Regions from separate parts of the Homo sapiens genome. Here region 2 is linked to region 1. A link means that fine-mapping ties the variant in region 1 to the plasma level of a protein whose gene starts in the linked region. Region 1 holds a variant in brackets. A gene starts in the other region. All regions are shown on their forward strands.

What was found. PIP is the chance, under the fine-mapping model, that this variant and not a neighbour inherited with it causes the effect. Protein levels are from antibody-based Olink assays in UK Biobank. Linkage for the fine-mapping came from a reference panel and not from the study's own genotypes, which makes the PIPs less certain.
Region 2: GP5 starts here. The variant in region 1 is fine-mapped to the plasma level of the GP5 protein (UK Biobank, PIP above 0.99).

What each region holds. Positions count from the first base shown.
Region 1 is chr9:4,761,149-4,766,521 of GRCh38, forward strand. No RefSeq gene overlaps it. Among named protein-coding and RNA genes, the nearest start is that of AK3, 23 kb to the left of the region's middle. RefSeq lists an enhancer at 1,781-2,719. The variant G/A (reference allele first, on the strand shown) is at 2,343.
Region 2 is chr3:194,397,367-194,402,677 of GRCh38, forward strand. It overlaps GP5 (glycoprotein V platelet), which reads right to left and starts at 1,900. Exons shown (of 2, transcript NM_004488.2): 1 at 1,872-1,900; 2 at 1-918. The coding sequence starts at 916. ATP13A3 (ATPase 13A3) reads right to left here. Exons shown (of 34, transcript NM_001367549.1): 34 at 5,311. RefSeq lists enhancers at 2,730-3,283, 3,284-3,836.

The DNA of each region.
Region 1 (5,373 bases):
TTTTTTTTTTTTTTTTTTTTGAGACAGAGTCTTGCTCTGTCTCCCAGGCTGGAGTGCAGTGGTGCTATCTTGGCTCACTGCAACCTCTGCCTCCCGGATTCAAGTGATTCTCCTGCCTCAGCCTCCCGAGTAGCTGGGATTACAGGCGCCCACCACCACACCTGGCTAATTTTTGTATTTTTAGTAGAGACAGAGTTTTGCCGTGTTGGCCAGGCTGGTCTTGAAACTCCTGACCTCAAGGTAATCCTCCTGCCTTGGCCTCCCAAAGTGCTGGGATTACAGATGTGAGCCACTGTCCCTGGCCCCAGGCCCTTCATTTTCTGACACTGCCACATTCTCCTTCCTTCCAGCCTCCCACACTGCTCTCAGGGCCCATGGAGTTTCATGCCCTCTTAACTTCCATATTTTATGCCCTATGTATGATTCCCCTGCTCCCCTTCTTCATCTCACCAACTTTTATTCATCTAGAGTCTTACCTTCTGGGAAGCCTTCTCTATTCTTTTCCTTAGTCTGATTAGGCATCCCTTCTCTGTGTCCCTAGCAGACCTGTTCATACTTTGTGGCATTTGCCAGATTACATTGCAGTAACAATTCCAGACTGCAAATTCCAGTCTGCTTCTCCATCTTTAGTTCCTCTCAACATGTTATTTGTGAACTCTTTGTTTCAGAATCACCTGAGGAGTTTAAACACAAGCTCCTGGGACATACCCCAGACCCACCAACTCCGAGTCTTTGCAGGGCAGAGCCTAGGAGTCTGCATTTTAAAACTTTCTCAGCCAGGGGCGATGGCTCATGCCTGCAATCCCAGCACTTTGGGAGGCCTATACGGGCAGATTGCTTGAGTCCGGGGGTTCAACACCAGTATGTGTAACATGACGAAACCCTGTCTCTACGAAACAAAAACAAAACAAAAATTAGCCAGGCATAGTGGCTCCCGCCTGTGGTCCCAACTACCTGGGAGGCTGAGGCAGGAGGATTACCTGAGCCCACGAGGTCAAGGCTGCAGTGAACCGAGATTGCACCACTGCACTCCAGCCTGAGCAACTGAGCAAGGTCAAGTTTGAGAGCCACCACACTAGACAGGAAGTGGTCATATTTTCTTAGACCTTTAGCATCTACCATAAGCACACAGAGAATGGACTCTGAATGAAAGAGTCTAGAGCTTGAAAGGGAACTGAAATTTAAAAATAAAAAAGTGTGAAATGATGGCTGGGCACGGTGGCTCACGCTTGTAATTTCAGCACTTTGGGAGGCTGAAGCGGGCAGACCACGAGGTCAGGAGACCGAGACCACCCTGGCTAACACGGTGAAACCCCGTCTCTACTATAAATACAAAAAATTAGCTGGGCGTGGTGGCACACGCCTGTAGTCCCAGATACTCAGGAACCTGAGGCAGGAGACTCGCTTGAACCCGGGAGGCGGTGGTTGCAGGGAGCCGAGATCATGCCACTGCACTCCAGCCTTGGCGACAGAGCGAGACTCCATCACACACACACACACACAAAAAGGTGAAATGAGCAGCATAACGTTGGAATGACAGGTGACTATTTCCTGCCAAGATTCCAGTTGCCATCAGGTGGCGCTGTGTCAACAACAAATGCTTTTACCTGAAGCGAGGAGGAAGTTTGGTTGATTTACTCGAATTCAAGCCTCAAATACTACATAACTGAATTTATTTTTTCTTACTCCGTTTGTTTGCAATTGTCCCACTTGTATGAATACATTGATTTTTTTTTCTCACCTGGCCCAGAACAAAGCTGAGTAAATTGATTTCTTAAGGCATGAAGCCTTAGACAAGAAAAGCCGTGGAAGGAGGCTGGTGGCAGCAGACAGCTGGGCAGGTCATGAAGGTCAGGGGAAGGAAATTAGCAATTACCCTTATTTCCATCTTCAGTGAGGAAAACCTGCTCCCCACCAGCACTGCCTGTTGTGAAATTACCCAAGCATTCAAATGAATATGTCATTTCGCGAGGGTGGAGCCATCCTGTAATTTCTGTCATCCAGTTCCCTTTACGGGTTGTTAAATGTCTACGTGAGTAACCCTTGAATGTCGTTGCTCTCACAAACCAAAGTCTGGAAGCCCGAGTCTTTCTTCTGGGTTGAGTACTTTATTCTTCTGAGGTGTGGGAACTGAGGCACAGCAAAGGCCTGAGGCCCCACGGGCAACTCTTTCTCCCCCTCCTCCCTCCCCTCCGCGCAGGGCATCCCCGTGCACAGAACTGATAGAGCTGGCCTGGCTACTGGCAGACTATCAGGCCAGGCCAGAGCTGGAGGCTGAGCTGGTTTCCTCCGGGCAGGACAGAGCTTTCAGGCAGCGACCTCCTAGGAGGAAGGCGGGGGGA[G/A]GGTTTGCAGCCTTCCCTACTCTGGGCAGACAGAGGAATGTGGTGGACAGGAAAAAGGGGGAGGAGGCAGGACCTCTACTCTCAGCATAGACCCAGTCTCACTGAAGAGGCACTCTTTAAAGGCATCACAGAGTTTAAGAATAGTGCATGGTAGAAATAACTCTTAATTTCTGAATGACCAAGTATAAATGAAATGGAAGTGCTTAAAAGTAATAAGAGAAAAGCTATATAGTTCCTCTTTTCCTTCCTTGAAAAATCAGGTGCAAAAGTCATCAGGTGCAGGGTCGAGCAAGATAGGCAGCTATGAGTGGGGTGGAGGTGAGCTGTGGTGGCCGGAACCTGACCAGGATCAGAAAGCATACATTCAGGGGCAAGTCCAGGCCAGAGTGTCAGAACCCAATTGTGGTGAGGGGTGTCCCGGCAGAGAGGCAGTCTGCCACAGGGTGTTGGAGTCCCAGTGGGGAGAGAAAGGTATCTCCAAGGACATGTATGTAAATGTACAATATTAAGGATAATGGGAGCAAAGTTTCTCGCTGTTGGAGAAGACAGTTAACAAATCATTCCTGTAATCCCACCACATTAAGAGGCTGAGGCAGAAGGATTGTTTGAGGCCAGGAGTTTGAGACCAGCCTGGTCAACATAGCGAGATCCCGTCTCCACAGAAATTAAGAAAACATTAGCCAGGTGTGGTGGCATGCACCTGTATGCCATCTCAAGGAAAGAGGCTGAGGTGTGAGAATCACTTGAGCCCAGGAGATTGAGGCTGTACTACAGCCTGGGCAACTGAGCAAGACCCCATCTCAAAAAAATAAATTATGGACAGAAAACTAGAATGAAAACTGTGTTAGGTTGGAATGAGAAGTATTGGTATGAAGTCATGGTTTTCAATAAACAAACTAATAAGATCCATATTTTATTACGTATGTAGAGAAATATAAGGGTAAATGCATGTATGATTTTGTGTATGTGTGTACACACATCCTTATATTCCCTACTTCTGTGCCCTGAGAGGGCCTGAGATCAATGATGCCCAATACTGGTTTCTATTTATTTTATTTTTAAAAAATAGAGATGGAGTCAGGCTGGGCATGGTGGCTCATGCCTGTAATCCCAGCACTTTGGGAGGCCAAGGTGGGCAGATCACGAGGTCAGGAGTTCGAGACCAGCCTGGCCAACATGGTGAAACCCCGTCTCTACTAAAAATACAAAAAATTAGCTGGGAGTGCTGGCACGTGCTTGTAATCCCAGCTAATCGGGAGGCTGAAGCAGGAGAATAACTTGATCCCAGGAGGTGGAAGTTGCAGTGAGTGGAGATCATGCCATTGCACTCCAGCCTGGGTGACAGAGCAAGAACCTGTCTCAAAAAACAGAGATGGAGACTTGTTATGTTGGCCAAGTTGGTCTTGAACTCCTGGCCTCAAGCAGTCCTCCCATCTCAGCCTCCCAAAGTGGTGGGATTACAGACATAAGCCACTGTGCCTGGTCCCAAGTCTGGTTTCTCTTTCTGTTTTTTTTTTTTTTTTTTTTTTTTTTTGAGACGGAGTCTCACTTTGTCGCCAGGCTGGAGTACAGTGGCACAATGTCGGCACACTGCAAGCTCCGCCTCCTGGGTTCAAGCGATTCTCCTGCCTTAGCCTCCTGAGTAGCTGGGACTACAGAAGCGCACCACCATGCCCAGCTAATTTTTGTAATTTTAGTAGAGACGGGGTTTTACCATGTTGGCCAGATGGTCTCGATCTCTTCACCTCGTGATCCGCCCTCCTCGGCCTTCCAAAGTGCTGGGATTACAGGCATGAGCCACTGTGCCCAGCCATGGTTTCTGTTTTTTGTGTGTGTGGTTTTTTTTTGTTTTTGAGACAGAGTCTCACTCTGTCACCCAGGCTGGAGTGCAATGGTGTGATCTTGGCTCACTGCAAACTCCACCTCCCGGGTTCAAGCGATTCTCCTGCCTTAGCCTCCCGAGTAGCTGGGATTACAAGTGCCCACCACCACTCCTGGCTAATTTTTGTATTTTTTAGTAGAGACGGAGTTTCACCATGTTGGCCAGGCTGGTCTCAAACTCCTGACCTCAGGTGTTCCACCCGCCTCGGCTTCCCAAAGTGCTGGGATTACAGGCATGAGCCACCATCCCTGGCCCCAATCCTGCTTTCTAAATATCATTCTTCACTTAACAGGAACCAAGACCCCTTAAGAGAAATGGTTGATTCTAGGAGTTAATAAATGAAAAGTAAAAGATGAGTCTGGGATAGCTTCTGGTGTCAGAAAGTAAGAAAGTACTCAAAGAAGGACACTGAAACCAGCCTGAAATTTCCTGCTGGCCAAATCTGAGACAATCTGAACATCAAACTTAATAATGATAGTAATATAACCCATTGATAGTAATATGCCCATTGAATAATTTATAATTCATGAGTCCCTATTGATATAAAGTGATATAAGGATTAATTTTGAAGAGGAATGGAAAATTTACATATTATCAAAGTTCTTCCTTACAAAACATCTTTTTGTTACAAAGGAAAAGCGAGTAACTTCACAGCCAAGAAGCACAGTAGATGCCACCTTAATGAAATGATCAAAGTTAACATCATTAGTAATAGGACATATTGAAGTGTGGATCCAATGAGAAGAACACATGACCTCTTTTGTATTTCTGTCAAAGATACATAACCTGCATTTAATCATTAGAAAACATGAGACAGACCCAAGCTGAGAGATATTATATAAAACAATTAGTCTGTAACTGCAAAAGAGTCAAGAGTCACAAGAGTCAAGAAAAAAACTGAGGAATCTTTCTCATTTGAAGGAGACTAAAAGAGCTATGACAAATAAATGTAACGCATGATTCTGAATTGCACTCATTTGCTATAAAGACACTACTGGGACAGTTTGTGAAACCTGAATGAGTTTGAGAATTATACTGTAACAATGCATCAGTGTTAACTTCCTGATTTCGGTAGGAAGAGTGTCCTTGTTTATAAGAAAATGCTAAAGTATTTAGGGGCCACGGACACCATGTTGGTAACTTATTCTC
Region 2 (5,311 bases), not on the chromosome of region 1:
GCAGGGTGCGCAGCTGGGTGCGGTTCAGCCACAGCTCCTGCAGGCCCCCCATCTCCCCGAAGAGCACCCCCGGGAGCTCTGCCAGCGGGTTCTCGAACAGAGTCAACAGAGTCAGATTGTGCGAATGAAGAAAGAGCGCAGAGGGGAGAAACGCAAGGTGGTTTCTCGAAAGCGTCAAAGAACTGAGGTTTGGGAGCCGGTCGAAGGCCCCGGGTGCGATGGAACGGATGTGATTTCGGTGGAACTGCAGCTCCGTCAGGGCGCCCAGGCTGTTCAACAGCCCCGAATCCAGAGACACAAGGCGGTTCGAGTGGAGCAGAAGTCTCTCGAGCTTAGCCTGTGCTCCAAGCAACCCCTTGGGCAGGTGGGTCAGGTTGTTTCCCGATAAATCCAACAACTTCAGGTTCTCCAGATTCGTGAAGAGACTGGCAGGAAGGAAATCGAGCTGATTCTGGTTCAGAGCGAGCTCCTGCAGGTTAACCAGTTTCTGAAACATGTTTTGGTCAATGCCCCTTAGCGCATTGTGGTCCAAAAACAACTGCTCCAGGAGCACCATCTTATCCAGCAGCGCACCTGGAAGATGCGTGATTTTGTTGCGCGACAGCCTCAGGGTTTTCAGTTTTATCAGGTCACTGAAGGTGCCGGGGGCAACGGCGGAAATGTGGCTGTCGGAGATCATGAGGCGCTGCAGGACGGTCATGCCGCTGAAGCTCTGGCTCTGCAGGACGCCGCGGCCCATTCCGAAGAGCAGGATGTGCGTGAGGTTGGTGGGCAGGCCTAGCGCGGAGATGCGCGCCACGTCGCCCCCCGAGCACTGCGCGGCGTCCCGGAAGACACACTTGCAAGCTGGCGGACAGGGGAAGGGCTGGGCGCGCAGAAGCCCGAGCACCGCGCACAGTAGAGTCCCCCTCAGCATGTCTGAAAAAGCAACCGTGGGAGTGTGGTCAACACACAGGAGCGTTCGCGCCTGTACTGAACCCTGGGATCCTGCACTTTGTGCAGAGGCACAATCCTTTCGCCAGAATTCTCACTCCCTCTTTTCTTAGGACTACAGATTTCCCTACGTGGTGAAAAGACACTCATTCTACACTGCGTGGCCTCATGCTTTTGCTTTATTGATTTTCCACTCTCAGTTTAAAGCATTGAGATTACAGAGTTTTCAAGCTACCGAATAGCCAATACTTTAAAGTCCTTACATAGAGAATTAAAATAATCATTCTCACATTCAAGCTCACAGACATCACAAAGCAATGTCCATTGTGAAAACGGCTCTGCTCTTGACTTTATAACTTACCCTGCATTGGCTATAACCAACAGTCAAGAAGGGAACAGCAAAGTCTGCAGCCACCACCATCTGATTCTTTTGCTCACAATCATGCTATTTCCACAGTACCAAGTTACTCTATTAAAGGACACCCCCAAAACAGCGAACACCTTCAATCAACAGCCAACAAAAGCATATAATAATACCTATCACTTTACGCCATGCATTGTTCTCAGCTCTTTATTTATACTACATGCATTTAATCCTTACAATAACCTTAGGAGGTAAGTATATTATCCCCGATTCAAGGATGAAGGCACAGAGGCACAGAAAGGCTCAACAGTATAACTAGGGTCACATAGAATTTGAGGGTAGTATTTCTGACTTAGCCATAAAGAGCTACTATTTCTAAGATGCTTAACTAAAGGTAATACTCACGGCACTGAATTTTCTGGGAAATGCACACCATACTACTAACCTGCCAAAACAATGTTTCCTAAGCGAAATTTTACATAAATTGCTTCTCGTGCAATTTTACTTCTCATGCACACACAGACTAAAGAGCCCTCTAATTTCCTATACTAATGTTTAAAATATTTGGCCTTACCTGAAATGGTTCTGCACTCCAAAGTAACTGAAAGACTTAGAGCTCTGCATGTGATTCGACACTTTCCACAGGAAGAGGGTGGTATCCTTGCATCCTGAGGATAAAGACTTTACCAGAGTAGGTCAGGAAAGGACCCTATCTCAGAGCCCTTGTTCTGGTTTTTAATGACAAATATCTTCAAACCGAGAGACCATATATAACCTGATTCCTACTGTCAAAGCCAAGAGCAGTGGGGAGAGTTTTTCCATAAATGGCACAATATAACTCTATGATGCCAGGGAAGTTCAGTGATACAGCTGGATCACTGCAGTAGCCACACCCCTAGATGGGCCACACTTCCCCTGGGTCTTCCTTTTCATGCCACATGGCCCTAATTTCCCACCCAGGTTTTTTTTTTTTTTTTTTTTTTTTTTTTTTTTTTTTTTGGTATGTGTTGTTTTTCTTTCTCCGCTTAGCAATAAAGCTAAGAACATTCTCAAATCCTCCATTTTTTTCTTCCTTTTGGGACTAATAAGGCTAAGAACATCTTTGAACTTGTTCAACAATGGCATTGCTAGGTTGCAGGATGCTCACTTGTTGTTTTTTTGGTGGGGGAGGGGGACTCTGTCGCCCAGGCTGGGGTGCAGTGGTGCGATCTCGGCTCACTGCAACCTCCTGCTCCCTGGTTCAAGCAATTCTCCTGCCTCGGCCTCACAAGTAGCTGGGATTACAGGCACACACCATCACGCCCAGCTAATTTTTTGTATTTTAGTAGAGACGGGGTTTTACCGTGTTGCCCTGGCTGGTCTTGAACTCCTGAGCTCAGGCAATCCGCCCGCCTCGGCCTCCCAAACTGCTGGGATTACAGGCATGAGCCACCACGCCCGGCCGCTCACATGTTCAGTTTAACTGGGGAAAGTCAAACTGCTCTCCAAAGTGGTTGTGTTGGTCTACGATGACACCTGCCATTTGTGAGAGTTCCTGTGCTTCCTCTCTGCCCACACGTGGCACTTCCTGCTTTTTGCCATTTCTATGAAAGATATCTCAGCATGATTTTAACTTTTCCTTTCCCTGTTTAATGATGAACTTGAACACCTTTTCACATAATTAAGGCCCACTTGTGCTTCATTTGAGAAAGCTGGGTTTCCTTTTGCCCATTTGTCTATAGGCAAAACGTGTCTACGTGTCTTTTGAACACACTGATAATGCTGTCTGCATTAAGACTTCCGGCCAGCCGCCCTGTCCGGGAGGGAGGTGGGGGGGTCAGCCCCCCGCCCGGCCGGCCGCCCCATCCGGGAGGTGAGGGGCGCCTCTGCCCGGCCGCCCCTACTGGGAAGTGAGGACCCCTCTGCCCGGCCAGCCGCCCCATCCGGGAGGTGGGGGGCGCTTCTGCCCGGCCGCCCCTACTGGGAAGTGAGGAGCCCCTCTGCCCGGCCACGACCCCGTCTGGGAGGTGTGCCTAGCGGCTCATTGGGGATGGGCCATGATGACAATGGCAGTTTTGTGGAATAGAAAGGCGGGAAGGGTGGGGAAAAAATTGAGAAATCGGATGGTTGCCGGGTCTGTGTGGATAGAAGTAGACATGGGAGACTTTTCATTTTGTTCTGTACTAAGAAAAATTCTTCTGCCTTGGGATCCTGTTGATCTGTGACCTTATCCCCAACCCTGTGCTCTCTGAAACATGTGCTGTGTCCACTCAGGGTTAAATGGATTAAGGGCGGTGCAAGATGTGCTTTGTTAAACAGATGCTTGAAGGCAGCATGCTCGTTAAGAGTCATCACCACTCCCTAATCTCAAGTACCCAGGGACACAAACACTGCGGAAGGCCGCAGGGTCCTCTGCCTAGGAAAACCAGAGACCTTTGTTCACTTGTTTATCTGCTGACCTTCCCTCCACTGTTGTCCTATGACCCTGCCAAATCCCCCTCTGCGAGAAACACCCAAGAATGATCAATAAAAAAAAAAAAAAAAAAAAAAAAGACTTCTATCCTTCAAGACACCATAAAAAAGGGGAAAAGATAAACCACAAACTAAAGATATTTGTAACACCTATAGCTGACAAAGGCTTAATGTCAGAAGATATAAAGAATCATGGGATCCAATCCCCTTTGATGCAGCCTAATGCAGTCAGAGCCCAGTAAAGGCTGGGTTGACTGAAATTACCTTCAAAGTCACGCAGCCCTGGACCACAGGGAAGAGCCACTGCCTCTGCCAGGTATCGCGGGAGGTCTTTCAGTTCCGATCAAGGAATGCAACTCCAGAGCCCTGAACTGCTACACTGGTGACCTGGTAAGTCCGTCATGCATAGGCACATCGAGTGAAAGCCTCCCCGCCCCCTTGCCCATGAAATTGCCAGGGAGCCAACATGACAGACTGGGAAGGCGAGCTGTGAAACAGAGTAAGATGCCGATGGCTCAAATTCCTGTGGCCCTTCTTTAGCCTATTTCCCCAGGAAAACCTCCAGTCAGAATGGCCTCTACATTTTGTCCCTTAGGAAGACACTTTGATTGTCCAGGAAGGGAAAAGTAGGTATGGCAGTTGCAGAGTGGGGGAACACTCTTAGTCCATCCACTGAGCAAGTTGATGAGGTAATGAGAAGTATTTGGAGCAAGGAAGTTGACAGCTCCAGTGCTTCCAAGTCTTAAGATTCTGTATCCATTACCAGGTCAGAAGTCTGCTGTAAAACAGTTACCTGGCTTAAGGGGCTTGGCTATTCAAAAGCAGGTCTGTGCCTGGGTGAGATAAGCCTTTTTCCTCTGAGGGAGACTCAGTGGGCCGGGCACAGCAGGGAGCAACCACACCCCAACTTGGACCACGGACAGTCTCACTCAAGCCCCTAGGACTCCCTGTCCCTTGGCAGTGATACAGCGGAAGGAGAGACATGCAGAACTGTGCCCACACCAGCAGGCTGTGGGGACAGGATCACACATGCCGCACAAACCATAGCGACTGTTAAGAACTTGAGCTAAAGGCAGGCAGGCCCTCACCCCCCGAATTCATCACACCACAGCCAGCCACATATTCCCTAGCAGGGGCTCCGTGTCTCCCGGAGCTGAGCTCCATGGAAACAACTCCCACCCACACACAAAGGTCCTGTCTTCTCTGGGATTTTTACAACCATTTTCTCTCTCCATGGTATTAGCTTTTGGTTTGATTCTCCCAACTATTAATAGATTATAAGTCCCTACTCTTCTATTTCATTTCACCATTGCCCTCAGACCTCCTCGCATTTAACATTTGGCTCTACACTGCATCCGACTGTGGGGTTTCCCCAGGATGCTCACACACATGGCATGATATGCAGAATGTTGTTCTTATTTCCTTCAAAATCCAGTTTTTTTTAAAAAAAAAAAAGAAGGAAATGGGGAAGTATTATTAGGCAGGAAAATAAATCCACAAAGGGCAGTATTCATGTCACTAAAAAGCAAACAAATGAATAAAGACACAGAAAAAAAGTGTTAT